Linked DNA regions of Homo sapiens: regions 2, 3 and 4 are each linked to region 1. Evidence: fine-mapped expression QTL. A gene starts in region 1. Each other region holds a variant in brackets. All regions are shown on one strand. Distances are from middle to middle. Region 1 holds the start of HAR1A (highly accelerated region 1A). Region 2 overlaps LINC01056 (long intergenic non-protein coding RNA 1056). Region 3 holds the start of C20orf204 (chromosome 20 open reading frame 204). Region 4 overlaps KCNQ2 (potassium voltage-gated channel subfamily Q member 2).

Evidence for each region.
Region 2: its variant is fine-mapped to the expression of HAR1A in whole blood (INTERVAL, PIP above 0.99).
Region 3: its variant is fine-mapped to the expression of HAR1A in prefrontal cortex (GTEx, PIP 0.91).
Region 4: its variant is fine-mapped to the expression of HAR1A in cerebellum (GTEx, PIP 0.96).

What each region holds. Positions count from the first base shown.
Region 1 is chr20:63,097,092-63,105,141 of GRCh38, forward strand. It overlaps HAR1A (highly accelerated region 1A), which reads left to right and starts at 4,201. Exons shown (of 2, transcript NR_003244.2): 1 at 4,201-6,163; 2 at 6,464-7,295. It overlaps HAR1B (highly accelerated region 1B), which reads right to left and starts at 5,228. Exons shown (of 3, transcript NR_152601.1): 1 at 5,024-5,228. RefSeq lists a silencer at 5,277-5,666.
Region 2 is chr20:63,052,867-63,060,916 of GRCh38, forward strand. It overlaps LINC01056 (long intergenic non-protein coding RNA 1056), which reads left to right. Exons shown (of 6, transcript NR_033369.1): 5 at 39-400; 6 at 646-997. Among named protein-coding and RNA genes, the nearest start is that of LINC01056, 19 kb to the left of the region's middle. RefSeq lists a silencer at 3,576-3,776 and enhancers at 6,736-7,578, 7,579-8,050. The variant TACTC/T (reference allele first, on the strand shown) is at 4,950.
Region 3 is chr20:64,028,545-64,036,594 of GRCh38, forward strand. PRPF6 (pre-mRNA processing factor 6) reads left to right here. Exons shown (of 21, transcript NM_012469.4): 18 at 1-25; 19 at 833-947; 20 at 3,374-3,500; 21 at 4,297-4,556. The coding sequence ends at 4,449. It overlaps C20orf204 (chromosome 20 open reading frame 204), which reads left to right and starts at 7,638. Exons shown (of 4, transcript NM_001387010.1): 1 at 7,638-7,782. The coding sequence starts at 7,780. RefSeq lists enhancers at 6,801-7,030, 7,918-8,050, 7,981-8,050. The variant A/G (reference allele first, on the strand shown) is at 3,643.
Region 4 is chr20:63,415,555-63,423,604 of GRCh38, forward strand. It overlaps KCNQ2 (potassium voltage-gated channel subfamily Q member 2), which reads right to left. Exons shown (of 17, transcript NM_172107.4): 12 at 4,065-4,118. Among named protein-coding and RNA genes, the nearest start is that of KCNQ2-AS1, 29 kb to the right of the region's middle. RefSeq lists an enhancer at 2,002-2,649. The variant C/A (reference allele first, on the strand shown) is at 3,317.

The DNA.
Region 1 (8,050 bases):
CACTTGCCAAATTCCTGCGAGCTGACCCCTCGATGGGGCTTGCACTCTAATTCTGCCCCAGGGAAGCCCAAGGTCAGGATTAGCATCCCCCCTGCTTAAGGGACAGCTGAGGCCAGGGTGGGGCTGGGGTGGAATGGCGGGCTGCATGCAGGAAGCCCATGGAGCCCAGATCTGCTCCAGGTCACAACCCTGTACCTGGCTTGGGGTCCACACTCCCCAGACACAGATGGTGGCATGTTCCCCTCGGACTGTCCACCTGTTGTTCGGCCAAGCCCTGACCCTCACAGCAGGCTGCTGAGTTCAAGGATGCCCCTGGGCAGCCAGGCTGGGACCCTTGCCCACTCCCTGGACGCACATCCGCCCGCCGCTGGGTTCACAGGGGAGGGATTAGAAACCTCTCAACGGAACGTCGACGAGGCGAGTGGGGTGGGGATGGGGGTGGGAAGGGGACAGGCCCTCCCCCACACGTGGGGAGATGCATGGCTGTGAGGTGCTGCCTCCGCCTCTGAGGCTGGCGATAGGCTGGATTCAGACACAGCTCGAGCCGCTCACCCTCCACGTCCTGCTTAGGAGGAGTGCGGGGCCGGCTAAATCCCCAATGCCCAGGGCCCAGGGGCATCCCATCCATAGCCTCAAGGTCCCTGGCTTCCCCTGGGGATGGGGCTGTCGCACCTGTGTCCTCCCAGTTCCGAGGTACCATTGATACACACACAGGGGTCCCTGGGGGAGTTTCCTAACTCCTCTTCCTCTGAAGGCCAGGCCTGGGAGAATGAATTCTCCAAGCACCCACCCTCACTGTACCACGGCAGGTTAGAGAATGCGGACAGAGCTGCTTGGCTGCACACCTTGGGGGGGCGTCACCCTCTTTTTAGCCTCAGTTTCCCCATCTGTGCAGTGGGTACCAGAGAGGACTTTACACAGAGGCTGTGCATTCCCTTTTTTTTAATTTTTTTTTTTTGAGTCAGAGTCTCGCTCTGTCGCCCAAGTTGGAGTGCAGTGGCGCGATCTCGGCTCACTACAACCTCCGCCTCCTGGGTTCCAGCGATTCTCCTGCCTCAGCCTCCTGAGTAGCTGGGATTACAGGCGCACATCACCATGCCCGGCTAATTTTTTGTATTTTTAGTAGAGACAGGGTTTCCCCATGTTGGCCAGGCTGGTCTCGAACTCCTGACTTCATGATCCACCTGCCTTGGCCTCCCAGAGTGCTGGGATTACAGGCATGAGCGACCGTGCCCTGACTGAGGCTGTGCATTCCCTAACAGAGGGGGACGTCTGGCTGCCCCCACAAAACAGCAGCTCTGAGCATGTCTAAGGTCAGCCCCTCCCTGCTTTCCTTTTCTCCCTGATCAAATTCATGTGGCTTCCACTCAGCCCCTTCTTCCGGCTCTTACTTAGGAATGCAGATCTACCCCAAACCCCAACACACACTGGAACCCTCAAGGTCCCATCCTACTGAAAGCCAGGTAGCCGGTGCAGTGAGCAATGGACAGATGGATGGATGATGGATGGTGGATGGATGATGGGTAGATGGAGGAATGCATGATGGATGAATGAATGAATAGATTAATGGATGAATTGAGTAGATAGATGAATTGATGGATGGATGATGGATGGATAAATGAATGGATGATGGATGAATAGATTAATAGATGAATGAATGAGTGGATGGATGGATAGATGGGTGAATGCATGGATGGATCATGGATGATGGATGGATGACAGATGCATGGAAGGATAGATGAATGAAAGAATGGGTGAATGGATTAATAGATGAATGAATGAGTGGGTGGATGGATAGATGGGTGAATGCATGGATGGAACATGGATGATGGATGGATGACAGATGCATGGAAGGATAGATGAATGAAAGAATGGGTGAATGGATTAATAGATGAATGAATGAGTGGGTGGATGGATAGATGGGTGAATGCATGGATGGATCATGGATGATGGATGGATGACAGATGCATGGAAGGATAGATGAATGAATGAATGGGTGAATGAATTAATGGATGGATGAATGGATGACAGGCTCTCCATGAGCCGCTCTGCTCTCCTCCATGGCCTCCTGCTCACTGGCCCCTATATCTCACATCCTACTTCCAGTTTAATGGAGACAAGAGTGTCCTCCCCAACCCAAGTTCTCACCCCCATCCCTTCCTCCCTCAGACCCACCTGGAAGAGCTGCTTCTCTTCTCTTGTAGAAGTCTCCCATCCCAAGGAGGTGCCTGGTCTTTCCCCTCAGGAAGGCACCTGGTCCTTCTTCCTCCCTTCCCTCCTGGGAGACATCTGGCCCTTCACCTCCCCCTGCCCCTTCACCTCCTATCAAGGCAGCTCCCTCAGTATTTTCTGCAGACCTTGTTTGTCTCCTGTGACGTTCATACCCTCCCGTTCCCACAGACATTCTTCCATGTCCAGCCCAGACAGAAGGAGGTCCCCCCCTGCCGGATGGATGATTGAGGCTGCCTGTGTGTACACGTATGACTGAGCAATGGACGGAGGTGTCTGTGTGCAGCAGGCATGTGGCACGACCTCGGAAGAGGGAACAAGACAAGATGTCCCCCAAGGTGCCCATGAGGACCCTCCCTGGGCAGCTGGACTCCAGCCCACCTTGGGCTGCAGTGTGCATTGGGGGTGGGGCCAAAGACCCCTCCACATAGAGAAGGCAGCCAAAGGGAGGAGGGAGTGGTCAGAAAAGGTTGTCTCAGCCAGGGAGCGGCTCCACCCTCTCCTGAGGACGCCTGACCTCAGACGTCAGCTCCCGTTAGAGACCCCCGTATACCCCCTGCCTAGAGCCAAACTCTGAGAGTCTCTGGATGGACTGAGGGGTGGGACAAGGAAAAAAAGGAAGGAGGGAGGGAGAGAAGCAGCAAGGAGGGGTCGCCTGGCCCGGCTCCCCCAGTGAGGAAAGGGGCTGTGGCACAGAGATTCCATCTGCAGGGCTGGGGGCAGCCGAGAATGGCACCTCCAACGCCCACGGCAGGGGCCCACCCGCCTGCCTCCTCCGGGACCACCGGGCCTGGCTCCTCTCACAGACTCTTTGAGAGCGTATTTGTGAAACGTAGCATATTGTGGGTGATTAGATTTAAATTTCAATACACTTTGTTAAAAATAGAGTTGGCTCTCGCCAAGAGGAGGCCGCAGGAAGGGGCTCTCAACGGCTCGTCTTTGGAATATTAATAGTATGGAAATGTTATTAGAATAATTTTTCATCATGAATAATAAATTAATGGAATAATTCGGCAGCGCCACGTGACATACCCTGCTAAGAGGGGCTTTGTTTTAACAGAATGGGGAGGGTGGGTTTGGGGTGTGGGGGAGGGCAGAGCTGGGGGAGGGTCCGCCCAGGGCAGGCGGGGTTGGGTGGAAGTGAGTGAGGTGCCTGAAGAGATGAAGGCTCCGGAGGCATTTGGGGAGGAGGACAGAGACCTGGGACCAAGTCCTCAGGCACTTTTAGCTTCATGTCTCAGCCAGGGTTCTGGCCCTGGCCGGCTCCTTCCCACAGAAAAGCTGGGAAGAGATCTTGGTAGGTGTCCGGCCCCACACACCATCCTGCTGGGGGTGGCTGGGTTGGACTTCACCATCCCCACAGCCCTGCAGCCTCCCCTCCTGCATCTTTCTCCTTGGTAAATGCCAGGAACCTCAAAAGCACCCAGAGGCCCAGAGAAATTGAGCACACAGGGGTGGGGAATTCAAGAGCAGGAGCTGTTTCTAGGGCCCCAGGGGCAGGGCCAGGGTCTCCTGGTCATTTCTGTGCTCGGGACCCCTGCTGCACCTGAGCTCACTGTGGAAACTGCCTGAGGGGGCCACACGGAGCTGATGGGGACAAGCATGCAGGGTGGGCACCCTTGTGGGCTCAGCTTGGTCCAGGGTGTCCACTGGGGGACGGGGAGGGAGATGGAGCACCAGGGAAGAAGCGTCTCTTCATGTGGTCAGCGCCCCCTCCTTCTCCCCACTCCCTCCTTTTGCCTCCCTTCCTGCTGCTGCCTGCACGGTGAGAACAGAGATGAGATGGCCCCTGCCCGGGAGCAGTCAGCGGCACCACAACCCTCCCAGGCCAACCCAGCTCCTGACAGAGAGGGAGGGAGGCAGCCTGGGGCTGGGGGCCCTGGCAGCAGTGGCACACGGAGTGTGCACATGGATCCTAGTCAGCCTTTTGCAGGGCGCTGAAGCCAGTGGGGGCCCCCAGGGAGGTTTTGGGGGAGTGTTGAGGGGGCCTGAAGGGTTCCGCTCCTCCCACCCAGGGAACCGCCATGCCACTAGTGGGCTGTCCTGGAGACTCGGGGAGAAAGCACACAGGCTGTCGGGAAAGGTGGGTCGCAGGCGGGCAGGGCAGCCCTGCTGTACTGATGGGCAGGCGCTGGGTGGGTGGAAGGCAAAGCCATCAGGTCATCCCCCTCTCTGTCCCTGCATTGGGCCAACCAGGTGTGTCAGGAGGATATTTGACCATTCCTGAGAGGCACATTCTCTCTCTCTCTCTCTCTCTCCCTCTCTCTCTCTCCCTCTCTCTCTCCCTCTCTCCCTCTCTCTCCCTCTCTCTCCCTCTCTCTCCCTCTCCCTCTCTCTCTCCCTCTCCCTCTCTCCCCCCTCCCTCTCCCTCCCTCTCCCCCTCTCCCTCTCCCTCTCTCCCCCTCCCTCTCTCTCCCTCTCTCTCCCTCTCTCTCCCCCTCTCTCTCCCTCCTCTCTCTGTCACACACATTTGCACATCCTGCAGTGTGAATGGAGTATGAATGTGTGTGGTAGGCGACAGCTGTGTGTGTACGTCCGGGTGCGTGTGTGCGTGTGTACATGTGAGCGTGTGTGCACGTGAGTTAGAGCCTGAGTGTCCCCTGCGTGGGTTAGTGTGTGCGCCCGCCCGGTGCCCTCCGTCTTGGGAGTCTGGGCTGCTGCTCCGCGGGCTCTGGAGCCGGCGCTCCCCACGAGCCCGGACTCTCCGCCGCGCCCGGGAGCTGCGCAATCGGCTGCTAAGACGCCGGCGCCACCGGCTGGGCCCTGTTCTCCCCTCTCTTTTCTACAGTCTTACCCGCAGCTGACAGGGTTCGAAAGAGCATGAAACGGAGGAGACGTTACAGCAACGTGTCAGCTGAAATGATGGGCGTAGACGCACGTCAGCGGCGGAAATGGTTTCTATCAAAATGAAAGTGTTTAGAGATTTTCCTCAAGTTTCAAATGAGGCGAATCCCGTTTTCCGCGATGCTGCAGCGCGCGGGTTTTAACCGCAGGGTCACGCGGAACGCCGCGCCGCGCGACTGTGCCTCGGTCTCTGCGCCCGGCTCTCCCTCCGGTCCGCAAGAGGAGGAAGGCCCGCGGCGTGCCGAGGTCAGCGGCGCGGAGCCACCAGGCGAGACGGTCACGGACGCCTGAACCGAGGTCACCGAGGCCACGGGGCCGGGAGGCCCTCAGCAGAGCCCGGGGGCTCCGCACCTCAAGGCCGGCCAGGAAGAAACAGCAGCAGGAGCCCAGGGCGCCCCGGGGAGCCCCCGACACGCGGGCCGAGCGCCCAGAGCGGCCCAGGCCCTCGCGAGGAGACCGGCCTCCCCAGGGCGGGGCTTCCGACTCGGGCGCCCGTGAGCCCCGGAGGCGGCGCGAAGGGGCAGAGTCCGCGTTTCTAACCAGCCCCCGGGTGGGCGGTGGCCCGCGCGGCACGGTGGGCGCGAGCGCCGTGGGCTGGGGCCGGCCTGGGCTTTCAGGGCGAGGGCTTTCCGCGCCGGCCCCAGCCCACCCGGCCCCGCTGCGCGCCCCTCACGCTGCAGCCTGGGAACCTGGGCCGGGAGCTGCGGGCCGCTCCGGGGAAGCGGGCCTGACCTCCCCTCCCCACCGCCGCCCCTGCGGTGAGATCCTGCCTGCCGGGGCGCAGGGGCCCGCGGTTGGGCTCCGGGAGACGGAAGAGGCCCCACAGCTCGGGCCCCACGCAGTGGACGCTGCCACTTAATTTTGGCGTAATTGATGTCAAGGCGGGTGCCCGGGCCCCCAGTGAAATGCCTCATGAACTCGCTGCGAGGAACGGCGCTCCACGCGGTGCACGGTGGCCAATCAGAGCTGCCGCTTCTGATGGAGGCTGAGCCGGCTGGGGAGGCGTCTTGGCCAAGAACCAGCCCCAGCCTCGCTCAGGGCCCCAACCCGCAGACCATGTAATTAAGCTGCGTTCTGCAGCCAGGGCAAGGTGCGGAGGGGCCTGTTTCTAGCATTGGGGAGGAGGAAGTGGGGAGGAGGGAGCGGGGAGGAAGGAGTGGGGAGGAGGGAGCGGGGAGGAAGGAGGAGTGGGGAGGAGGGAGCGGGGAGGAGGGAGCGGGGAGGAAGGAGTGGGGAGGAGGGAGCGGGGAGGAAGGAGGAGTGGGGAGGAGGGAGCGGGGAGGAAGGAGGAAGGAGCGGGGAGCAGAGGAGCAGAGCGGGAGGGAGGATCGTCGTGCAGGGGGCCTTTGTGGATGAGGCTGGGATGTCCCTGCCCCTCCGTTCCCTCCAGAGTCTCAGCTCTGAACATCTTCCCGCACCTCTGAGGAGCCAGGCCTGGAAACCCTCTAAAATAGATTTTTCTGCCTCAAGACAGAAGATGGGCGTTCCAGGCAGAGAAGAGCTGCCCAGTCACGTGCTCTGCTCCACCTGGTCAGAGACCCTTGACCTTTAGAAGACTGGACCTGAGGGCGTGGCTGGTGGACCTGAGGGCGTGGATGGTGGACCTGGCCACCCAGCTGTAGCTTTTTGGGTTCCTGTGGTCCCATTTCTTGGGTCAATCTCACACCTGGCAGCTCCCAGGAAGACACCCCCAGGCCCCTCACACTCCTGGGGGCAGCTGGAATTGGCTTCAGGGCGGGACCAGGGGCCCCATGGGTGTTTGGAATCCCTGATCTGGGTCAGGCACCGGCAGCAGGATTCCAGCCTGGCCTGGACTCTGGTGTGTCCCGTTTGAAGAAACCCCGCCCTGTGAAAGTTCAAGTTTAGCATCCAATGACCCATTTAAGAGGTTTGCTGAGCCACGTCACAGGAGGGTCTGGGTGCAAACGGAGGTGGCAACACACAGAGCGAGCCTTGAGCACCCAGGTTACCCCCAGGACCTCCAGTCTGGCTTGGGGGCTCCTGCTGTCCTGTGGAGCAGCCCCCTGGGATCAGGGACGGGGCTGAGCTGGAGAGTGTGCAGGATTGATTAATGATGTCTGCCACGGTCAGGCCAACTGCTGTGTTTCTGGGGCCCACAAGCTAAAAATGGTTGGAAAAAAATCAAAACATTAATATTTGTGACATATGAGAATGCTATGAAAGTCAACTTTGCTATCCATAAATAAAGTTTTATTGACATAGCCATGCTCACTCTTTCTCATATTGTCCATGGCTGCTCGTGTGTCCAGGCACATACCAGGAGGCTACAGACGGAGCTGGATTCTTTCCGGCCCTTTGCTGGAGGCATTGCTGACCCCTGCTCTGAGGCTCCCCATGGCTCTCAGGATCCAGACCCCAGGCTTCCCAGGACATTGGGGGCCAATGGCTCCCTGAGTGCCCTCCTCCCCAGCTCTTCTCCCACCCCTGCCCCCCCAGGAGCCCTCACCATGTGCCACTCACTGCCCACGCAATCTGACCTGTGAAGGGCAGACAGAGGAGCAAGCCTGCCTGAAAAGGAGGACTCTGACTTTGCCACTCCGCTGCCCTGCCTGGCCCCACTGTGGTGTTACCAGGAAAGGCCATGGCAGAGGGACATGCCCACGAGCTGCCCTGGGGGAGAGCGGCTGGGGCAGGGAGGGCAGCACTGCCCTCAGAAAGCCCCGCGGTGGTGCCCCTACCTCCCCTGGGTTCCAGGAGTGTGGACAGACCCTGCTGGGAGCAGATGGCACTTCTGCAGCTGAGGCCTGCTGGACGCTGGGCCATGCCGGGGACTTGAGCCTGGGGCCACACGCTCCTCCTGGCCGATGTCACCACTCCTCTTCCAACAGTCTTGGCCCCGGGGTGGGCCTGCTCCCCGCCCACTCTCTGTGTGGACGGATCATTGCTGCCGCCCTCTGTTCCTCCCTCCCAGGACTCAGAAGAGGGGCCTGGTGTGAACAGGAGGCAACCGCTGACC
Region 2 (8,050 bases), 44 kb before region 1:
AGGATGATGCCTATCAGAAACCCTAATTGTTTTTTCAGAAACGGCTAATTAATTAGGCTCAGCCTCTTGAAAGGCACTTAAAATACTAACGACTTGCTAAAAAAGGGCAGGACTTGAAAGCAAAGCCAAGGTCCAAAGTGCCCACCAGCGTGAGGGGTCTGCTGCCTCCCTGCGGGGAAGCCCTGGCAGAGCCCCTTGCTTTGCTGCTCACAGAGTCCAGGACATGAGAGCCGAGCCCATGCACCAGTGACTCACGCCCCGGCACAGATGAGCCCAGAGCCCGGAACAGAGGCCGTAGCAAGACCCCGGGAGCCCAGCCTCCCCTACCCCTCCAGCCCCGCTCTGGGCCCCAGGAGGCTGACCTCCATGGATGTCCCAGCAATCTGTCTCTGGCCTCTGGGTGGGTGTGGCCAATGGAGTCATCCGGGACACGGAGGTGGGAAGGGACTGGGCCCTCCTTATCAGGTCTGAGGGTCAGGGGCCCTACATCTGCTTGTCCCTGTTCTCAGCGCCAGGCTCACCTCATCCCCTGCCCCTTGTCAGAGCTCCTTCTTTGACCCTCCCCAGGGGTCCAGCTCACTTGTTTGTTAGTGACCTCATCACAGACAAGTTCTCAGCCCTCCCATGGGGCGGTCGGTCCTTCAGGCACTGGAAATACAGCGGTGGACACAGTGGTGGACCTCCCGGTATGTCCTCTGTTCGACTGAACAGTCGGGTTGCGGGGCCTCCAGGAGCTCTGTGAGCCCGTGCTCAGGTGCACACAACAGAAGTACTCCGCTGACGCCCACCCCTTTCACTCAGCTCTCGGTTCAGTCATCGCCAAGCAACTGAGAGCCTTTGTGAAGAGGCTTCCTGCCCTCTTCATCTTCCACAGACACGCTCTTCTTCCTTAAGCCCAGGCATACACAGACACAGTGAATGCACACACAAAGACACACACCAGTGTGCACACTGCTCTGGAATCCACAGGTTCTATAAATATCTAGAAATGATATCTGAAAGTGCATTGTTATATGCGCTGGTCTGTGATGGTTACGGTGATGGTGATTCCTCCTTCCGGAGGATGGCGCGGCTGCAGCCAGAGGGAGATTAGGTGGCGGAGGCTTCGATGACCATTTACATTTTACGAGTACTTATTTTGAGTGTGTATTTGGAAAAATTAAATTTGTATATCAAGCCCATGATTTCACAGATATTTTTGCTTAGGTCAAAGGCTAAAACAGGTATTTAAATCAATTCGTTTATTTAACTTAAAGAAAAATATGACGGGTTAAGGTTGGGCTTCCCCAGAAGTAGATCCCGAAGCAGGAATGGGAGGTGTCCCAGCGTGGCGGCGAGTTACTTCAAACTGGGTGGCTTTAAGTAACGAGGATTCATTCCATCTCCGTTCTGGAGCTGGACATCTGAAAGCAAGCTCTGGGCAGGGCTGGCTCCTGTGGAGGCTCTGGGAGGGGGTGTGGTTTCTTCCTGGTCCCTTCCAGCTTCTGGTGGCTCCAGGCCTTCCTTGGTGTCCCCGGCTTGCAGCCGCATCACTCCAATCTCTGCCTCTGTTTTCCGTGGCGTTTTTCTCCAAATCTACCTGTCTCAGCTTCTCCATCTCTTATGAGGGCACCCTTCATGGGATTTGAGGCCCACTCTAATCCATGATCCTTACCCTAATTACATCTGCAAAGACCTTATTCCAAATAAGGCCACATTCTGTGGTTATGGGTGGACATATTTGGGGGCCCTGTTCATCCTACTTAAGGAGGGAAAGTTGTTTATTTTGGAGGTGACTCTGAGAGCACAGCAGCAGGTGAGTGGGAGGTGAGATGCCCAGTGACCAGGGCGGCCATCAGGCAGGCCACGGCCAGGCTTCTGGGCTCAGCCTCACCAGGTCCTCAGCTGCCCAGGGCTTTCTCACCCAGGACCTGCCTGGAGACTGCTCCGGGGCCATCAAGTCCCCGGCATGTCAGCCCACCCTGGCCAGAAACAGCCTGGTCAAGGGGCACAGGGCTGTGGAGTTGGGGTGCCCAGGAAGGGGAGAACCAGCGGGGTCCATGGGCCAGGAGAGTCCAGCCTTGAAGATGGGGGTGTGAACCACACAGTCACGGTCTCAAAGGCACAGAGCTTTGAAAGCAAGGTAGTAGCTCCTCAAGCCCTCTGGGCACGCCCCACCAGGGTTTGTGTGTGGAGTTAATAGGGGGCAGTTCCAGGAGCACACCAGAGGGGCCGGGGCAGCCGGAGGGGCCAGGGCAGTGGAGGGCTGGGCAGCTGGGGCCCAACCCCAGTGGGGACTGAGAGGCCTCGTGACTGCTGCCTCAGATCCACCTCTGAAGGGCGGGAAGCCTGGGCTCTCCCTGTCCCCCACAAACCAGGGCTGGGGTGTAGCTGGGGGGTGTGGAGTGAGGCTGGTGAGAGGTGCCCGACGGGAGAAGGGCCCCGGTCCAGCAGCTTTCCCTGATCAACCAAGGGGGATCTATTTTGTTTGTAAAAAGCTGATTATCATAGATAAATGTGTCTAATTAGTCTCATTTGCTGACACACAAGCCTTTAATTGCAAGTTGAATAATTAGACATATCTGCATATGTAAATGATACAGTTATACCCTATGTCAGTCTTTAACGTGATTCCTCCAGAGACAAATAATTCTATTTCAGGAGAGAATATGATATATTAATTTACATAGACAAACAACTTTATTTAGAACCAGCAACTCTCGTGTTTGTTTACATAAAGTAATAACTCGAGAAATGGGAAAGATCGATGTTGCAGCAACATCTGGAGGCTCCTAACCTGCAGGGGAGTCCCTGGCAGCCTCCCACGGGAGCTGGGTCTTCCTCCGCCCTCCTGGGGCCCCAGTCCTCCCACGTGGACAGCAGCTCTGGGCCTGGGGGTGGGCTGGGGCCCAGGCCATGGGGTCTCCCTCCCCTCTTCCCCCTCCACCCTCCCTCATGCCATGCTTCCTCCTCTGCCCCTTGTCCTCGCTGGGTGGCAGGATGGGTGAGATGCCCGGTGGCCCTGCAGGCCTGCAGCTGGCCCAGTGCATGTGGGTGTCCCCTCTCCATGGCTGTGCCCTGCATGCTGGCAGAGCTGCCAGGGGCAGCTTGGAGCAGGAGCAGCTGGAGCTTGGGTCCTGATTCAGGCAGTGCTACAGCCGGCTCCCTGCCAGGCCCTGGGTCAGCTGCCCACCTCCCCAGTGGGTGTCATGCTCAGCAGCCTCAGGACAGGGCTGGGGGGCTGGCTGGTGCCGCCTGCCTCTGTCAGGCCCCCGGCCTCCACTCTGGCTGAGTACATCGTCTCCTCTCTGAGCTGGGCAGGGCAGCCACTGGCGACCCCTGGCATCCTCCGGGTCTGACTGGCGGGGACAGGGCTGCGAAAGCATTTGGAGGCCTGACCTGGAAGGAGGAATGAGGGGCCAGCTGAGGGCGTCCCAGGCAGAGCCAGGCTTGCGATGCCCAGGGTGCCCGGGGCACAGAGTGGCCCGGCCGCTCCCACACCCCTTCCCCCTTCCCTGGGCCCGTGGTCACATGGGTTTCGCTGGGAGGCAGAGCGTGAGGAATTTGGCTCTGGTGGAATGAGGACGGCTGCACTCCCTGCTTTGCAGAGGGCCCGCACAGCAGCCCGTCACTGTGGCAACCGGCTCCGTGATGCTGGCAGGAGCTGACATCGTCCCAATTCGCCCCTGTGGTCCCTTTTGGTCCCCCTCCCCTCGACCGCCAGGAGCCGCTGTGGATCGAGTTGGCCAGCAGAGGGCAGCAGAGGGCTGGCGGGGCTGGCGGGGCTGGCGGGGCTGGCGGGGCTGGCAGTGGACGCCACACTTTGGGGTCTCCAGGCCCCCAAGTCTTCTGGGGAAAGCAGCAGACAGGCGACAGCCACAGGGATGGGGAGGCGCCATCACTACTGCAACCACTGGGGGTAGCCCTTGGCCCGTCTGGGGGCATTTCATCTTTGGCAGAGCTGAGGGGTCCAGCACGTGGGCCTCTAAGGAGGGGTCTCCCGCCCACCGCCCCCAGTGCTACTGTGACCGCGGCGGCTCGGCCCCGCCTGCACTCCCAGGTTCTCACTCATGCAGTCACTCACTCATTCGCTCGCTCATTCACTCGCTCATTCACTCATTCATTCACTCGCTCATTCACTCATTCACTCATTCACACACACTCATTTGTTCACTCATTCCTTCACTCAATCATTTACACACTCATTTGTTCACTCATTCATTCACATACTTATTTGTTCACTTATTCATTCCTTCATTCACTCATTCATTCACACATACTCATTTGTTCACTCATTTCCTTATTCACTCATTCACACATGCACTCATTTGTTCACTCCTTTTTTCATTCATTCATTCACACACACTCATTTGTTCACTCATTCATTCACTTATTCACATACACTCACGCATTTGTTCAGTCACTCATTCCTTCATTCACTCACTCATTCACACACACTCATTTGTTCACTCACCCATTCACACACACTCATTTGTACACTCACACACAATCATTTGTTTACTCACTCATTCACATTCACTCATTCATGCACACACTTACTGATTCATGCACACACTTATTTGTTCACTCACTCTTGTTCACTCATTCATTTCTTTCACTCATTCACTCACACACATTCACTCATTCATGGACACACTGATTCATACACACAGTTGTTCACTCACTCATTGCTTCATTCACTCGTTCACTCACATTCATTCACACATTCATTTGATCAGTCATTCATTCATGCAATCATTTGTTCACTCATTCCTTCACTCATTCATTCACACACTCATTTGTTCACTCCTTTCTTCACTCATTCATTCACACACTCATTTGTTCACTCATTCCTTCACTCAATCATTCACACACTCATTTGTTCACTCACTCATTCCTTCATTCACTCATTCACACACTCATTTGTTCACTCGCTAATTCAATCATTCATTCACACACACTCATTTGTT[TACTC/T]ACTCATTTGTTCACCCACTCATTCCTTTAGTCACTCATTCATTCACACACTCACTTGTTTGCTCACTCATTCCTTCACACACATGCACTCACTTGTTCACTCACTCATCCACACACATTCATTAATTTATTTACACACACTCACTCACTCATTTGTTTACTCAGTCACTCCTTTGTACACAGGGAAAGAGTAAGGTACCTTTCCCTCCTGTTCAGCTGCTGCCAGAAGCAGTGTCCAGTTCTCCTGGTCTAAGCAGGACTCAAGGTCCTGCAGCAGCTCAGCAGCCCCTGGAGCTGCAGCGTCTCCTTTGTTCTCTCTGAAGGGGGCATGCCTTGGCCCCAACATTCTTGTCCTTCATTTTTTGAAGTTTCTTCCCCCTCTCTCCTGGCTAATCTCATATCTTAACTACCAATATAAGACAAAATATTTCTGTGACTTTCTTTCCAATTCAATAAATCCATCTGGTGAGAAGAGAAAAAAATGCAAGAAGAGAAGAGGCAATGCCGCACCCCAAACCCTGTCAGTCACTCACACTGAGGACATTTTCACGAGGCGTTAATGGGTGATGTTTGAATTCTGGTTGCCAGCACAGATCAGGGCAAAGCTCTTGTAAAACTCTATTAAAGTCTGTGGATCCAGCTGAGACACAGGGCTGGGAAACAAAGTTAACTGTTCTCCCTCCTGAGCGGCTTGTGGTTCAGGAAACACCCCCAAGCCCCTGCCTTGGGGGATCTGTGGGTGAGAGGGAAGCATATTTGGATACAGCTTCAAGAGAGAGGTCCGACTGCTCTGTGTGTACACGTGTGTGTGGATTGCCCTGTGTGCACCAGCTCTGTGAGTGCCTGCATGGGAGTGTGTACACACCTGTGCTCTGTGTGCATCCTCAAACACACCACACCAACAGGGGTCTGGCATTGCCTCCCTACGGTGCTCATGGTGAAGTCCTCGGACTCCAAGCCCCTCTTCTGCGCCAGCAGTGACCAGGCTGTGGTCAGCATGGCCTGTTGGTGGCCTTTGACTTCCTCTGTTGGCAGATGGCTTGAGGCCCCCCAGTTCAGGGCCACAGGTGACTTCCCCCTTTCCCAGGTGGTGGGGCCCTGTAGGCTTGACCAGCCCCAGGCTCCAGAGCGCACAGAGGTGGCTGTCCACAGAGCGCGGGAGGCATGGGAGGGTGTGCTGCTGCCTGCTGGTCATCCAGCTCCTCGCCCATTAAGGAGCCCGCTTTCCCCTTTGGGAGGCCACAGGGGCTGGCGAAGGCCCTTCAGCTGTGGCTCAGGTGGGCTGGGCACCACTGCAGGAGAAGCCTCCTCCAGATGGGAGGAGGTAGGAGGTGCCTCCTCCAGATGGGAGGAGGTAGGAGGTGCCTCCTCCAGGATCAACCCCAGCTCCTTAGCACCAGCGAACAGACACAGTAGACACACGCAGGAACAAGCACATGTCCCAGGCTGCACCGTCTGTGTCTTTCCCTTTTTGGGGTCCTTGCATTTCACCCTTACCTGGTTCTGGATTCAGCTTTTAAGGGCACACTGATTGGCAGCCAGGCCACTGTGAGCGCTGGCTCCAAATGTCCTTTTGTTTTGTTTTGTTTTGTTTTGTTTTTTGAGATGGAATCTCTGTCTGTCATCCAGCCTGGAGTGCAGTGGTATGATCTTCGCTCACCTCAACCTCCGTCTCCCGGTTTGAGTAATTCTCGTGCCTTAGCCTCCCCAGTAGCTGGGATTACAGGTGTGCACCACCATGCCCAGCTAGTTTTTTTGTATTTCTAGTAGAGACGGGTTTTCACCATGTTGGCCAGGCTGCTCTGGAACTCTTGGCCTCAAGTGATCTGCCCACCTCAATCTCCCACAGTGCTGGGATTATAGGTGTGAGCCACTGCGCCCGGCTTCCAAATGTCCTTGACAACGGCCACAGCATAGCCTGCAGCCAAGGGGCGAGGGCTGATCGCGAGGGCCTGTGGTCATTCCTCCACCTTCGGTGCCCTGCCTGGGCACCCCCGTGCAGCTACCACGTGGGGAAGGCACTTGGCCTCTTCCCTCATCTGCAGACTCAGCCAACTTCTGGGGCTCCCTCGGCAGTTGGGGCTAACTCAGTGGGTCAGGTGGACCCCGGCTGTGCGTGCAGCCCCCGAGAGGGTCAGCAGGGGCGCGGAGGCCCCCTTGGCTCTGCTTTGTTCTGCCTGCGGCTCCGGTTGGTTTGTGATATCTTTGATTCCATCTCTTGCCCCCATGTGACCCCATCGTCTGCCTGGCCGGGGGCTCCCTTGTTGGAGTGTGGGGCGAGCCCCCACCCGTGTGGGAAGAGGAGAAGGCCAGGCTCTAAGCCCCACTCAGCTCCTCGTCCTCGGAGGGGTCCTGGCCCTAAGAGGGCTTGTTGGGGTCACGCAAGCTCACAATGGCTGTGGTCCTCAGCAGGTGGGACAATCGGGCTGTTTTCCGATGGTGTTTGGCAGAAAGTGGGAGTCAAAGCTTAGAAAAGCCCTGACAGAAATGGTTCCCTGAGGCTGGCGGGAGAGTGGCACTCGGGATATTAAAACAGCGAAGTCGGTCCTGGCCAATTATCAGCCAGCTGGCCTTGCTCCGGCGCCCAGAGCTCACAGGGTGAGTCACCATCTGCGGCTGAGCATCCCTGTTCAGTGAGGGAGACAGATCCTGTCCTGGTCCCTCCTCCCAGCTGTTTGTGGCCTCCCTCCTCAGGCTGCCTGGGAAGCTGTTTCAGAACCTTCCAGTCCCCTCCTGGCTGGCCCTGGGGCTCTGTGGAAGTCCTGCTTCCCCCAGCAGTGCCTGGCCCTTTGTCCCCGACCCAGGAAAAGGTGAAGTGGGGGTACTTCCTGTGCATGACACGCCCCCTTCCCTTCTCCCAGCCTCCTGCCTCGGGGCTCTGGCAAGAAAGAGGGCCTGAGCTGCAGGAGAAGGGCTTCCTTGAGCAGGAAGAAGCCCTGGCCCAGGGCAGGGTGCCCGGAAGGCGGAAGGATCCCAGCCCAAGCCACAGCCCCACCAGATGGGTGGGGGCCTTCATCACAAGAAAGATCAGAGAGTTGCCCTCTGAAGCCTTCGCAGTGGCCCTGACACAGGCTGCCAGGGATCCGTCACTCAAGGG
Region 3 (8,050 bases), 930 kb after region 1:
GCGCTGCAGGAGTGCCCCAACTCCGGTAAGGGGGTGCCCCGACTCCGGTAAGGGGGTGCCCTGACTCCGGTAAGGGGGTGCCTTGACTCCGGTAAGGGGGTGCTTCCTGGCTTCCCAGACTCCGCAGGGCTGGCACTTCCTGAGGGAGTGGGGGCTCAGGCTTCAGACGGACTTTATTAAAATGTGTAGTTTGTGTGAATCATTTCAGTCAAAAGTTTCAGCTATACTCGGCCGTTAAGACAACTTAATGAAATTCTTGGCCTCAAAATGGGAGAATTTGATTTCATTTCTGAAGTGTTATCATTTCTTTTTCTTTTAAAATTTAAAAGAAATTGGCCAGGTGTGGTGGCTCATGCCTGTAATCTCAGCACTTTGAGAGACTGAGGCGGGAGGATTGCTTGAGTCCAGGAGTCCATTGCTTGAGACCAGCCTGGCCAACATGGTGAAACCCCGTCTCTACTAAAATACAAAAATGAGCTGGGCATGGTGGCGGGCGCCTGTAATCCCAGCTACTCGGGAGGCTGAGGCAGGAGAATTGCTTGAGCCCGGGAGTGGGAGGTTGCAGTGAGCTGAGATTGCGCCATTGCACTCCACCCTGAATGACAGAGTGAGACTCTGCAGGGTGTCCAGTCTGTGCCCTCAGGGCTGCCATGGTTTTGGGTGGGCCAGAGTGCTCATCCTTTGTGGTTCTCCTTGCACAAGTTCTGCGAGCCGTGTGTGGGAGGCCCCTGTCGTGGTCTGAGGACGTCCCGGGTTAGAATCTGTAGGCTGGGCACCTTTCCGGAACCAGAGGCTGGAGTGCAAATCTTTGTTCTTTGTTTCTGAATTATAGGTATCCTGTGGTCTGAGGCCATCTTCCTCGAGGCAAGGCCCCAGAGGAGGACCAAGAGCGTGGATGCCCTGAAGAAGTGTGAGCATGACCCCCATGTGCTCCTGGCCGTGGCCAAGTGAGTGGGGCCCCCACAGGATTGCTGAACCTCGGGGTCCTAATGGGCTCTTTTTCCAGAGTCTGTCTGCCTCTTCCTGGTCATTGTAAAGATGCCCGGCAGCAGGGTGGGCTTCCCCGATCCTCGGCTGCCGTCGCTCCTGCTGTGGTCTGGGGCAGGCGCCTCTCCTGGCAGACACACCTGAGGGTGCCGTGGTCAGAGACTCACTGGGGACGCATGTGATTCACACTGGTGCGCTGGCCGCCGGGTCACAGACTCACTGGGGACGCGTGTGATTCACACTGGTGCGCTGGCCGCCAGGTCAGAGACTCACCGGGGACGCATGTGATTCACACTGGTGCTCTGGTCGCCGGGTCAGAGACTCACTGGGGACGCATGTGATTCACACTGGTGCGCTGGCCGCCGGGTCAGAGACTCACTGGGGACACATGTGATTCACACTGGTGTGCTGGCCGCCGGGTCAGAGACTCACTGGGGACGCGTGTGATTCACACTGGTGCGCTGGCCGCTGGGTCAGAGACTCACTGGGGACGTGACTCTGGAACCTTGCAGGCAGCAGCGGGTAGCCATGGGGCAGAGCATGCAGACTCTAGGCACATGTGGGCAAAGACCCGCCAGGTGTGGGGCACAGCAGGGAGCTCAGGGCCATCCCCGACCCCCAGGGTCCCTGTTTCCTTCTAGAAAGAGGATGACAGTCTGGGAAGGAGCTGGGCCTGAGTGTGGGTCAGGAGGCTGGGAAGTGACCATGTGGGGTGAAGGGAGTTCTTGGAAGAACCCTGGGTTCCTGAGGCTGCAGCTCAGGACGTGGGCTCACCTGGCAGAGGTGGCGTGTCTGGCCCCAGGAGCTCTCCTGTGTCCGGCTTCCCCTCCACCTGCCCCGCCATGGGTCATGCAGAGACAACAGCCTTCCTAGTGCTGGCTTTTGATTCTCTCCATCCCTTCTCCCCAGCACTGGGTGGCAGTGGTGCTTGGTCTCCAGAGGTCTGGGTGCCGCCCCCACAGGCTTGCCTGTAGGGGCACCTCCTCTCCCCTGCCCGCAGGCCCCCGACAGATGAGAGAGGCTCCCCACAGGGAGGCTTGTGTCTGCCTGGTGCTACCTTGGTCCTGCCCTGTGCGTTCACCTCCCAGAGTGACTTCTGGGTGACACTCTGATAGTGCAGCCATAAAACCTTATAAAAGGCTTTGCTAAAGTAAATAAGTCACTCCTTGCTATTCCCAAGCCAGTGTTTTGTGTGTCTGCTATCTGGGTTTGTGCTCTTTAAATCACAGTTTATCTAACACCGGGCAATTAAGAATACCACAAGGCTTAAAAAACAATCAGGTTATCAGAGTGTGAAATTATTCCGTTTGGCAACTGAGACGAACCCGAACAGCTGCCCGGAGTGGAGGCTCCTCGTGTTGTCTCTTGACTACGGTGCCTCTGGCTCCAGGGGGAGGTGACCCTGAGGAGAGGGTGGCAGCAACGCAGAGTCCCGGGCCTGCCAGCATGCTCAGCAGCCAGCGCCCGCCATCCCTTCTCCAGCAGCGGGTGGGGGTGCCATGCACACCCTTACCTGGCCTCTCATAGCATGGACCTCTTCGGGCCCGGTTTTTCAGGTGTGCATGTGTCTGGCAGGCACGGCGGTGTGAATCCAGTGGCCTGAGGGCTGTGGGCTGCAGGCCCAGGCCCTTGTGCTGCCTGGAGCCCATCTTCTCAGTGTTCACTGGGGTTGCTGCTGGAGGCCGGGTGGGGCAGGATGATCCAGCAGGTGTCTCAGTGAGGAGCTGAAACTGTATAACTTTCCCTCATCAAAGTTGCAGTTTAATTTTGTGTCAGGTTTAGTTTCATCTCCTTGTATCTGACCCTAATTTTACGGAGTTGGAAGATCTTTCCCTGCGTGTGAATTTTTTAAGAAACAGTTTGGGACAGGTGCGGTGGCTCATGCCTATAATCCCAGCACTGGGAGGCTGAGGCAGGTGGATCATGAGGTCAGGAGTTTGAGACCACCCTGACCAACACAGTGAAACCCCATCTCTACTAAAAATACAAAAATTAGCCGGGTGTGGTGGCGCATGCCTGTAATCCCAGCTACTCAGGAGGCTGAGGCAGGAGAATCGCTTGAACCTGGGAGGCAGAGCTTGCAGTGAGTCGAGATCGCGCCACTGCACTCCAGCCTGGGCGACAGAGCGAGACTCCTTCTCAAAAAAAAAAAAAAAAAAACAACAAAAAAAAACCAATTTGGTTAGACCCGTGAAGGGCAGCTTCAAGTTAATGATCTGGGGTAATTATTTCTGGATCAGCCGAGGCCCTGATCCTCAGGCCTTCTTGAGGGGAGCACCAGGGCTGCGGGTCAGGGATGAAGCTGATGGCCCTGAAGCCGTTCCCCTGCCCCAGAATACCGTCCTGCAGCCACTCACTCTGGGTTCACGTCCTTCTGCTGGAACAGGCTGTTTTGGAGTCAGCGGAAGATCACCAAGGCCAGGGAGTGGTTCCACCGCACTGTGAAGATTGACTCGGACCTGGGGGATGCCTGGGCCTTCTTCTACAAGTTTGAGCTGCAGCATGGCACTGAGGTGAGGCCCCTCGACAGACCGCCGCTCAGTGCCTTCTGGGACTGTGGCGGGGAGTTCCGCCAGCCCTGGGGGCTCTAGGAGGTGGCCACGGCCAGCGTGACTCTGCCCGGGGTCGGGAGGATGGACCGGGTGTGTGGGGCAC[A/G]GAATCCTCGACACCTCCCCACAAGGCAGTCTCTGCCTCCACATCCGTTTTCTGGTTATAGCCTCACAGCTCCACACCCTGGAATTGAGGCACCCTGTCCGTTAGGGTGGCCTGTCTGCTGGAGTATTTTAACGAGTTATTTGCTGGCTGGAGCCTGGGCTCACTTTAGGAATGGGAATGGAGTTGGCCTTTTTCTTGGGCCTGAGCCTGAGTGTGGCTTTCTAGGACAGCCTGGGCAGCAGCCCCTCTGCTCCCACCCGCCCCGCTAGAGCCAAGCGTTGTCTGAGCTGTGCTGGAGGCAGTCAGGCTGTCCTGGTCCTCCCTGGAAAGTGTTGCCAGCCCACGTGAACCCTAACTCCTTGTTTGGAGAAGGCAGACGTGAGCACTTGTGTGAGGCACAGACATGGGGAGCCTGGCTCAGTTCCTCATCTGTGGGCTGAGGCTGGTGGGGTCCATGCTCCTCAGGAGGTGGGGCTCCTTTGAGGAACACACCTGAAAGAGCCTTGCCTTCCGGTGCAGGGCCTGTGCCCTCTGGCCCGCCAGTTGGGGTTGGTGCTGCCAGGGCCAGGTCTGCAGGGGCCAGGCGAGAAGCAGGCGAGGTCCGGGGAGTAGCGTGGGAGGACCCCTGCCTGACGTGCCCTGTGGTCCCCCCAGGAGCAGCAGGAGGAGGTGAGGAAGCGCTGTGAGAGTGCAGAGCCTCGGCATGGGGAGCTGTGGTGCGCCGTGTCCAAGGACATCGCCAACTGGCAGAAGAAGATCGGGGACATCCTTAGGCTGGTGGCCGGCCGCATCAAGAACACCTTCTGATTGAGCGGTTGCCATGGCCGGTCTCCGTGGGGCAGGGTTGGGCCGCATGTGGAAGGGCTCTGAGCTGTGTCCTCCTTCATTAAAAGTTTTTATGTCTCGTGTCAGAACAGGCAGCCTGCTGGTTTTCTCTGGGGCCCTTCTCTGGCTCCTGCTTCTGCTGCCCCAGTCTGGCCTGTCCTGGCCTGTCCCATGCCGTCCTGGGGTGGCTGTGATCGCCCTTGCTTGGACAGAAGCCTCTTGCAGACAGCCGGTGTCTCACAGAGGAGGCACTGTGGAGGTGCCCGGGTTCCCCAAGACTGTGGAGAAGGTGGTAGGGGTGCAGATGTTCTGGCCAAAAGCCCTGTGAGGACAGCTGGAGACAGTGGGGACCAAGCTGCATGCAGGACGCAGGTGCTCGCAGGAGCCTGGCAGCCGCCTGCAAGGGTCTTGGTCAGGGGACAGCTGGGGCCTCCCTGGGGTCTGAGTGCAAACAGGAGAACCCAGCTCTGCGCAGGGCCTCTCCACACAGCCTCCCGGGCCCCTCAGGCATGTGCTGAGTGACAGTGTCACCAGTAAGAGGCGTTCTTTCTTTTGGAGGTGAGTTCATTTTTTTATTTTTGAGACAGTCTCGCTCTGTCGCCCAGGCTGGAGTGCAGTGGCACGATCTCGGCTCACTGCAACCTCTGCCTCCTGGGTTCAAGCAATTCTCCTGTCTCAGCCTCCCGAGTAGCTGGGACTACAGGCGCCCGCTGCCAAACTCCTGACCTCAGGTGATCCATCTGCCTCAGCTTCCCAAAGTGCTGGGATTACAGGCGTGAGCCACCGCACCCGGCCGTGAGTTTATCTTTGCTAATTTATCATTCGCAGTTTAACCCTAAAGCCCTTGTAATGGTTCTCATCTCCAGGTTGAACAGTGATGGTTCTCATCTCTAGGTTGAACGTTGATCACCCGAGAGACTTGGCTTCTCTTCAGCCTTAGCTGTGTAAGGATAAAGGACGTCCTCAGGCCTGGGATCATGTGTGTGCATTCAGTTGGGAGCCAGCTGGTTCTTGTGTAGGCCGGGGCTAGAGACATCTGGCTGGAGGTCATGGCTGGCCCAGAGGGTGTGGGTGGACAGTCGTTGAGGCCAGCGGGCGGGGAGGAGGGCGCTGTCATGTGGGCTGAGGAGGCTGCTGGAGAGCAGCTGTCCCTGGATGTTCCTTGTGAGAGGGGAGCCCTGGAGGGTCCCGGCCTGTCTTGTGGTACCGATGGCAGGGCCTGTGGTGGTGGTCAGTCACTGACCCACAGCTCTGCCCACCTGCACATGGGGGCCTGTGCTAGGCCTTGTGGTCTGCCTGCCCTGCTCCTGACGAGTGAGAATGGCTGGGGTGGGAGATCCCTGCCTGCACGTGGGGCGGTCCTGGTAGACCAGAATGTGGGTGTGGGTCCCCCTTCCCTGTGGTTCTGGGGACCTTGAGGACATGGTCAATCCCGGGCAAGGGACCTGCCACCCCTGTATGGGGTCAGGAACTGCTGGTTGGTCTCTGCTGGGCAGGCAACCTGGGGTCCAGCTCAAATCGTTGGAATGTGGAAGTCCTTCCTCTCGCCCCGTCCTGAGGAGCAGCTGCAGGAGCTTCATGAGTGTTTTCACTGGAACTTGTGGAGGAGTTTCCTTTGATCCCTCATGGAGAGACGGAAGCATGAGGGAGCCCTCAACATTTATTCTGAAGATGAAGAGAGTCCTGCAGCTTTTTGGAGTTTGTGAAGTCAGCCCGGCCCTGTACAGATGTGGAAACCGAGGCCCAGGAAGTTTGTGAGCCAGCCCGGCCCTGTACAGGTGTGGAAACCGAGGCCCAGGAAGTTTGTGAGCCAGCCCGGCCCTGTACAGATGTGGAAACCGAGGCCCAGGAAGTTTGTGAGCCAGCCTGGCCCTGTACAGATGTGGAAACCGAGGCGTAGGAAGGAAGCCCTTCTCTGACCTCAGAGCTGAAATGGCCAGTGCTGGGTGGGCATTGAGGGGTCACACAGAAAAGAATGTTTCAGGCCATGTTCAGGGGATACTTCCTGCAGGGCCCTTGGAAAGTTCCGGAGCGCTTACATTGTCCATGTGTGAGTGTCTCCTCTTTCTTGCCTGTGTGGGGTTTTCTCAAATGCTTTGAGTTGGCCAAACCACAGTTGTGCGCCACTTAACAGTGCGGATACATTCTGAGAAAAACCTCGTTAGGTGATGTCGTCTTGCAAACATTAAAGAGTGCATTTACACAAGGCTGGCAGGCACGGCCTCCTGCACCCCCAGGCTGTGTGCCCGGGTGCCAGAGCCTGGGGCTCCTGGGCTGCAGACCTGCACAGCCTGTCACAGCATTTAATCACATCCAAACACGGAAAAGGCAAAAACGTAAAGATGCAGTGTTACAATCCTAGGGGACTCCTGTCACCTGTGTGGTCTGTTCTTGACTATTGTGAGTCACTGACTTTTCCCCCTGGGAAACTACCTTAACTTGTCTTCAACTGAAATTTTTTCAGCCTGCAAAGATGAGTTGTGCCTCAGAGGTTGCTCGTGTTCTGAGGTGCCTCTTCACCACTGCCTGTCAGGCTGCTAACCAGAGTGCCCCAGACCACAGCAGAAGCGACAGCAGCCAAGGATCGGGGGAGCCCACCCTGCTCCTGGGTATCTTTACGGCAGGCAGCAGAGTAACAGCCTCAGACTTACCTCTTCAGCCAGAGACCCCTCAGCCCAGGAGGAGTGAGGCCGGGCCAGCAGCGGGGGCCCGGGAAGCCCCATGTCTTGGGACCTGCTGGGGCAGGGCCCCCTGGATGTCAGGCTGCAGGTCCGGCAGCTGGGGAGGGGATGAGGGCCTCCCACCAGCTCTGCCCATCAGCCAGATCCCTGGGAGAGGCAGCACTTGCTGGCCACAGAGTCGGCCCCAGTCTCACCTGGCTCCCCTCCCCCACCAGCTGGGCCCTGCACTGCCCCAGCCCACGCGGCGCCTCACCCCTCCTTGACAGAACAGTATCTCTGGGACGGACAAGTTAATCCAAGACCCACAGTAGCCCTGGATCCCCTGGGAGAGGTGGCTGCCCAGCTCCAGGGCCAGGTTAATTGAAGTGATAGGGAGTGGAGAGAGGGAGGGGGCAGGGCTGGGATTGCGTGGCCTTTCCTTCCCTCTCCTGCTCCCTCCCTCAGCTTGGAGGAGCCAACTTCAAAAGCCTCCGCCTGGCCTGCCCCTCTGCAGTCCTCCAGGCAGCCTGTCCAGGGAAGCGGTTGGCTGGTGTTGGACCTGGTGCGGCAGTGCACACCCTGCCCAAGGACCCCAGGATCATGTGCGTGGCCTGCTGGCGGGAGTGAGGGAGGGCAAGACCCTGAAAGGCCCATGGTGAGCAGCTGTGGGCCTCCTCTAGGGAGGGGGCTTACTTGGGTGGAGGGGCTGGGGGTACACACAGCTCAGGAGACACTGCTTGTTCCCCTGAGCCCCACCAGGAAATCTCCGGTTGGCTCTGGTCACTGCGTCCCTGTGGGTGGCACTGGGTGCATGTGCCCTGGCTTCTGGCAGTTGGGGGAGGGGGGCTCCTGGGTGCCGGGCAACCCTGTTCTAAGCTGGGCTGAGGCTTGAGCCTGGAAGTGGTACTAACAGGCCAGTTGGG
Region 4 (8,050 bases), 320 kb after region 1:
GAGGGAGGGAGGGGAGGCTGGGTGGGCAGCAAGCTCCCCCGGCTGGCTCAGGCGTGGCCAGAGGTTGGCCATGTGGGGAGAGTTGATGTCTGTGGACTCTTAAATCACTTTCCGCTACCACCACGAGGTGCCGGAGCCTTCCTCACACTGTCCTGCCAGCCCCTCACCCAGTGACACTCAGGGCAACGGGCATCCCAAACACCGGGGCTGTGGCTCTTCCTCGGGCACCTCTGTCTGCCCCGGCCCCGCCCGTGGTTTCCCCTGTGGCCTTTTCACACCCGTAACTGCTCCCAGGAAGCAGCCTCCCTCCTCCCCTCCCACGGCCTGTCCCTCTCCTTCTGCCCCAGAGTCGAGGGGCCAGGGGACAACAAGGACATTGGGGGCCAAGTCTGCGGTGGACCCTTGTTCAGCCACACTCCGGCCTTTCCACCCACCCCGGGGGCCTGCCTGGTGGGATGGGCTTCAGGAGGGCTCAGGCCTCCCCTGTCAGGCTCCCCTCCCACCAGGTCCGTGTCAGAGAACTGCTCCTTCCGGCTTCTGGAAGGAAGGAATGGATAACGGGGCTCCTCCGCCAGCTGGGCCTCACTATCCAAGTCCTGCCCCAGGGCAGGGGGAGGCAGCCTCCAAAGCCACAGCGCTGTGGCCCGGCCCCCTCGGCCTGCGAGGCGTGAAGCAGGATTTGCAGCTGTGTCTGGCTGGGTCTCCAGCTCCATACTCTCGGGGGGTCCTTGGGCCTGCCTTGCCCCCGAGTTTTTTGGTGACCGTGGAGATGGGTTTGCACCCGAGTTCTTCAACTCCAGCGTCCGCCGGGCGACAGTGAGGGGAGGGGAGGGTTCACTGTGGTTGGTGGTTGGGAGACGCCAGGCAGATGTGGCCTCCTGAGGTCTGGAAAGCATCAGAACCCCCTGGCTCCCTTGAGGACAGTGGGGCTCTCACGAACTGGGGACCCGCTCATGCCCAGCCATGCTTAGCAGCCACGGAACTTCTCAGGGTGGTTCTGGGCAGGGCCCAGAGCACTGTTGCTGGAGCCTGAAACAAGCCTTCGGGTGGGGAGGCCCCGCAGATCCCTGACACACTTCAGAGAGGAAGCCCAGTGCCTCACGGGCTCCCTGATCCCACGGCGGCTCCCCAGCCAACAGCGAGGGACTGAGGCCCCGGTCAGCAGCCACCATCAGCCCCGACTCCAGACCCACAGCCAGAGAGACACGCCCACCAGACGGCACAGAGATAACCAGCCACAGACATGAGAGCCCACCGCGCCCGTCTGCCTGGCCTGGACACGCGGATCGCTTGGCTGCCCCTCCCCACCCCATCCCCCAGGCAGCAGGTGACCGCCCAGACCATCTGTGCCCACTCAGCAGACCATCTGTCCCCACTCAGGCGTCTCTGAGAGAAAGAAAGAAGCCCCTGGGTGTTGTGCCCGCTCGGGGAAGCAGAGACGGAGTGGCCGAGATCCCCCGAGTCCCGAGGCGTCGCGTGCTTGGGGACGTCAGGAGCCGATGGTACAGGCTCGCTCAGGACCCCAGTCCTGAGTCCACACCCCTGCACTGCCTGAGGCCAACACACCGTGCCCATGGGGGCCAGGGGTGCTCAGAGTCCTGGTGCTGTGGGTGCCTCTGTCCCAACGGCCTCTGGTCCCCATCCCAACAACAAAAGCACAGGTGGTCGGGGAGAACCGGACGGGGGCCAGGGGAGCACATGGGCACAGGCTCAGCGGGACTCCTGGAATGTTCTCTCTTTCTCCACCGCACGAGCCATTTCAAAGGCAAGAATAGGCCCCTCCTGACCCCGCTCAGGCAGGCCTCAGGGCAAGTGGGAGTCACTGGAAGACTCAATTCCTCTCTCTGCGTTTCCACCCGAGGCAGGTCCAGTCACCAGAGAGAGAAGCAGCCACCTCCTTTCTCACGGCAGCTGGCAAAGCACCGGGTGGAGGACAGAGCCGGTCGGCCCAACTGTAGCTTCGGGGCTGCCCTTGGCTGGTCTCTGGGCAGAGCCCGGTGCTGAGGGCTTGCAGTGGGAAAGGCACAGCTTGAGGAATGGGCATCAGATTCCCACCTGCGGCCCCGGAGGGGAACGGGTCAAATACCCAGGCGGCCACACAGACGTGCGGGCCAGGAAGGGTCAGGCCCCACAGTCCGCAGGGAGTTGCAGGAAGGGAGTGGCGTGGATTCCACAGGCCCCAGGAGAGAAGACCCAGCCCCGACGTCTGCTTCCCATTTTTCAGGGGGGACCCCCCGCTGACCACGACAAGGAGCCACAGCCCCGCCAGCGGCAGACACACCCTGCTGGACCCGATGCCCAGCACAGCCCCAGGGGCCGCCGGGACGCAGCCCACGTGTACTGCCCCAGACAGAGCCGGCGGGAAGGAGCCTGCCCTGGCCTCGGCGCGGCCCTGCTGTCCCGGGTCTCGGGCTCCGCTCCCACCTCAGATCTGCGAGGGAGGCTCTGCCAGGAAGAGGAGGGTGGCGCGACCTGGACATGTCCTTCCCTCCCCTGGACCTCCACCATGACCCAAACTCTGCACCCTCCAAGCACAGCTGGTGAGGCTCCATGCTGCAGACACCCGACCCCGCCAGCCTGCCTCAGCTGCCAGGAGCACGCGTGGTCTCGCAGGCCCTCCCTCGGCCACAAGCCAAGAACAAGCGCACGCGAAAAGCTGCCGCCACCCACCTGGGAGGAGCCCTCGGCCAGAGCTGCCCTCTGTGTGCGAGGGGCGTCCGTGGCACCTACGCTTGGGGCTTACGGGGCCGGGGCAGGCTCAAGAAGCACCTGAGAGCGCGCCATCCCCACCCGGCCTGCCACCCTCCCTCCCAATGGTGAAATTCAGATGTGCGGTGCCCGCAGGAAACAGGAGGCTGAGGAGCATCCAGACCCCTGCCCAGCTGGTGTCCGGACCAACGACGCCCAGGAAGCGTGAGGATGAAGGGGCCTCCCGTGGGGGCTGCTCGCAGCAGGACAGGGCCTGCCCTGGGTTGTTCTCTGGCCTGGGCTCCCACCCCCACTTTCAAACCCCTCTGGTCCCCAAGCAGCCTGACCTCAGCCCCTGCCCTGAGGGACCAGCCTGCGGCCAGAAGCACCCTGAATAGATGCTCCGGACACGCAGGACAGCTGCTAGCGCCCCAGCAGGCCATGCCCCAGGCAGCCCACACGCCCGTCTCCCTCTCTGGAGCTGCCAACAGTCTCCCCGCAAGCACCAACGCCCCCAGAAGCACACAAGCAGCAAAGTCACAGGGAGAGGGTGGCATGGAGTCGCGGGCCCCCCATGGAGCAGGGTCCGAAGCATGCACGGATGCAGATAGGCAGCATGCAGCCCCAC[C/A]AGCCCTCCAAGGCCAGCACCACCGGCGGCATGCACATGCCAAGGAGAGCCCCACAGGAGCACGACACAGCCACCTCCACCTTGCTGGGCTGTGCTGGCCAGGAGGGAGGGGCCCCCAGCGCAGGCCTGCACACACCCAACAGCAGACAGGGGACGCGGGGACAGGGGAGGTGCGGGTCACGGTGCAGGCCAGGAGCCCACGGTGCAAAGGGGGCGGCTCCTCCCCCGTCCTATTTCCACCTGCCCTAAACCAGGCCTGTTGTTGGGAGAGGGAGCCGCGGGCCTCTGGCTTTCTGGGGCTTCTGATGCATCAGGACCCTGAGGAGCCCGGCACACACAGACGGAGCTGCCTCCCGCGGTCGAGGCAGCCAGGAAGGCTCAGTCATCCTCAGGTACGCAGCAGAGGTGCTAGAGTGACAGCCCCAGGGGAAACGCTCCCTGAAGAGCAGTCGGGGACCCCAGGAGGCACGGACGCCTTGCTGGGTTCAGAGCCCCTGGCTGGCCCCTCTGGCTGTGCGCAGGACATCGCCTGGCGTGGGGAGCAAGAAGAAGCACCTTCCCCCAGCTCCGCCCTGCACGCAGCTGTCGGCTAGAATAGAGGGAGCTGAGCCCGCACCGCCAGGGCGGTGGGTCAGAATTGGGGTTGGGGCGCCAGCCTCCCCCTGGCTCCTCCAGAACCTCTAGTAAGCAGGGAGGGGCAGAGGAGCCGTGCAGCAGCCGTCAGTCCGTGCGGCGTGTTCCGCGGTACCTAGAGCGTCCGGGGCAGCATCCACACAGGGGCCCTCTGCACGGGCTGCCTTTACTGGAAATGAGGAGAGCACAGTTAGTCCTGGGCGCCGGCAACAGCACACGGCCGGGAGCAGGGAAACTGAGGCACTGCAACCACCCAGGGTGTTGTGTGCAGTCCCCAGCGGCAGAGCTTGCGCCCAAGCAAGGCCAGCGAGGAAGGTGCACCATCGTCTCCACCGTCCGGAGAAGAAAACACTTCCCTATTTCTGAAGGAAAAAAATCCCTGTTTTTTTTTTCCTCCAAAAATACCTTTTCCTTCCAAAGCCACAGTTTGGGTTCATGTCTTAAAAGATGTATTATTTTTTGCAGTATTCATGCTGACAAAACAATAATACATGTGGCCTCAGACGCCGCAGAAGCCCTGCTTGGGAAGGACGTGACCCCGGGAAAGGGCGTGGGTGTGAAGCACACACATTTGAGAGAGGAAAACGTGCAGTTGTCCCGCTTTGCAAACCAATCGGCGACGTTTGGCCATGCCAGCCAGTCCCCCAGTTGGAGGTGGGTCTCGGTTTACCCAGGAGGCGTGGCTGCCACTGCAGGCATGGCTATCTGGGGGTTCAAGGGCTCCCCTGAGGACAGTCACGTTGGGGCTCAGTGGATCCCCTCATTGTGAAGCCCTTCAGGAGCGCAGCTCCCCGCCGGGGCGTTCCTTAGAAAAGGCTCAGAAAACACGGAACGTTTTCCCAAGAATCTCCCCAAAAACCCTGGCGATTTAGCTCTGCATCACAATGTGCAAATGATTAAGCAAAAAATGAAACCAATCACCAAGAACTCAAGAACTCTTCCTTTTCCCCACCCCAGCCACCCCCAACCTCCTTGCCACTGCTTCCTGAGACAGCACTTCTCAAACTCGGTGCCCCAGGAACCCCAGCGTGGCGACGGCATCCACTCAGAACACACAGGCTCTAGGAAGAAAGCACCCAGCCTCCCGTCTTCCTGCGCACACGTGTGTTTAGACACCGATGTCCCTGCACGCACCCGCAGGCAGCTCTCCGAGCGGCGTCACAGACACGGCTAGCTCCAGTCACGGCAGCACTCAGCCGCCCGGGTAGGCTGAGGGCTCTGGACCCTTCCCCAAGCCCCACCAGCCTGCAAGACTCCAAGGGCGGGTGGCCGGCTTCCACCCCAGCCCCCGTGCCGGTCCGGCTTTTTAGTACACAAGCGACTTTGGGGTCCCCAGGCACGAAGGGATGTAGTGCAAAGGCTGGACTCTGTTTGCTGGTTAACCACGAACGCGACGGTGGGACGAGGCAGGAGGGAGCCGGCTCCCTGCGCCTGGCTTGAGGTTCTGGCTGCTCAGAGTCTCTCCCGCTGTGACCACCCCAGCTACGATGACACCCAGGCCTTCCTGGCAGGCAAAGACCTCAGACTCCCACCAGCACCACCCAGGCCCAAGCACAGAGCCCCTGCCTGGAGGGCCCCAGGAGACCTTCCCCACCCCAGGGAAAGAGCATGAAGGAGGCAGGGTCCCGCTTCCCCAAACCTCCCAAGGTCTCCTGTTTTGACCCCAGCATGATCGCCTTGACCAAGAGGCCCCTCCCGGGCCGGCCCTGCCGCCCGATTCTGCAATGGGATCGTCCTGTAGCCACACTGAAGCTCCGGCTGTCGCCACCAGGCACCTGAGACTCGAGAGTGAATCTCTAACCGTGCCCGTTATAATCCATGTTATTTTAACAGCCACATGTGGCTGGCAGCTCCTGTATGGGGCAACGTGGTCTGAGAGCCGGGGAGAGCTGGCAGGGAGGCGCTGCAGGCACAGCCCCCCAAGACCCCCAAAGCTTTGTGGGGGACCCGTGCAGCTGCACCTCCCCCTGGGGTCCGCAGCTGGCACTGGGCTTCCTTCCTGCCCCATCAGCCACAGGGAGCTCCACACTGCGTGAGAAGGCCCTGTGACCCGAGGTCGGACAGGCGGACAGGCCCACAGTGAGCTCGAGACCCACAGACACTGACCGAGACCCGACAGGACAGACATGCACCAAAAACACGCGGACACGTGTGCTTGAGAAGAGGAGGGGGAGCCCGAACAGGCACGGGGGAGCCCGCACAGGCATGAGGGGGCAGCCGGTGTTGGGGGCTCCTCCTCCAGCACGGGGGCAGGAGGCAGTGAGATGGGGTGTCGGACAAGACAGCACAAGTCAGAACCGCCGTGGCCAAAGAGACCCCCCGGGACCCCCCTGGGGCAGCACGGCCCGAGCCCCGCAGCCTGCCTGGCTCCCCACCCGACCCCAACGTAGACGCTTCCTCTGACTCCAGCACAGCCCCAGTGGTCCCTACGGGAACCGAGCCCCCGCCAGCCGGGTCGCCTGCCACCACGTGCCTGTGTTCTGAGCCAGGATGGGGGTGGGGGTCTCAGCAGTGAGTGAGGGTCCCTGTGTCCACACCATCCACCTGCCAAGACCAGCTGACACCAGCGGGGTCCTGCCATGCGGGGTGCGGGCTCCACCTCCAAAGGGCAGGCGGAGGCACAGGTCCCACCAGACTCACAGAGCCCAGGTCAGGCAGCAGAGGGGCGCCAGGAGCCGAGCTCCCCATCAAGCTTCGCAGAGCAGGCCCCTCACCCAGCAGCCCAGGGACGTGGCAGGCAATGATTGCGGAACAACTTCCTAAGCACGACCCTACACTGGACAGGCTGCGGCTGCCCCAGGCCAGGGAACAGAGATGCCACCCCGTGACCTGCCAGGTGAGCACCCCAGGATGGGCGGGGAGGGTCTTCAAGGGCAGAGACTGCTCCTCACTCCCACCGCACCCCAGGCACCTTCCAGAAGCCCCAGACCCAGCAGCCCCACGTCCCCCACCACAGGCGTCCCAGGAGGAGGGCCGGGGCGGGTGGGTGCTCGCCCGTGGGGGAGGGCGTGGGAGGCACAGGCAAGGACCCCCCGGACACATGGGGAAGAGACGGGGGAGGGGTGGGGAGCCACAGAGCTTACCGGAGAGCCCGGAGGCTCCCGCGTGTCCTCACCTGGAGTTCGCCTTCAGGGCCAGCACCTCATCCCCAAAGAGAGGGCAGACGAGAGAGGGGCCCGAGAAGGGCAGTAACAGGGATTAAAGCACTTGGGGGCAGCGGGTGTCCAGATGGGTGGAGTGGAGGGTGGGAGGGAGAGAGAGAAAGAGAGAGGCTGAGACGAGAACGTGGAGCGGGCCGGGCTGGGGCAGCGAGCACGAGGGGCCGTGAGGCACGGGGCGGGTTCCGGCGTCGCTCCCAGCAAGGGCGTGGGGCCCTGCCACGCGGAAGCCGTCGGGAAGCCTCGCGTCCACCTGGGACAGCACCGAGGTTCCGCCCAAATCACAGCCAAGGGTGCCCATTGTGGGGGGCACAGTGCTCATCCCCACAGCCACTCCCAGCCTCAGGGCCAGCAGCAGGGGCGGGGGAGGCAGTGGCAGCACTGGGGGCTGGCACCAGCAGAGGCTACGCTGCCGACCCAGCTCTTTCTGGGCCCTCGTCCGTTTTCTTAGCCTCTTTGAGAGGATGAATGAGCCCCTGGTGGTTTTCTTGGTTGGTGTGGGCCGGAAGCATTGCCCGTCTTTCCAGCTCAAGGCACTGACCATGACTCCCCTTCTGTGGGATGTGGGGTGGCTGGAAAAATGCAGCTCAGCCCCACTCCATCTCCCCGCACCCAAGCCCCGCAGTGTCTCGCCAGCTGTCACCCGCAGTCCAGGAGGGGCAGCCAGGCGTCCATCTCGGACCCCAGGTCCAAGGGGCCAGATTTACTCTGCAACATGTGGATGGGGCACAGGGGGCCCAGAGAAGCCTAGCACCTCCTCAGGGTGATGTGTCGGGGGCTGGGGCTCAGCAGACGTAGAATTAACTTGTGAAAGGATCTTGATTTTCTCTGTCTCCATCCTTCACCCCAGCAGAGCCCTTACACGAGTCCTGTCTCCAATCTGCCCGACCCACAGAACCTCGGGGCCCGGGAGAGGGAACCAGGCTAAGCACCTGCACCCTTG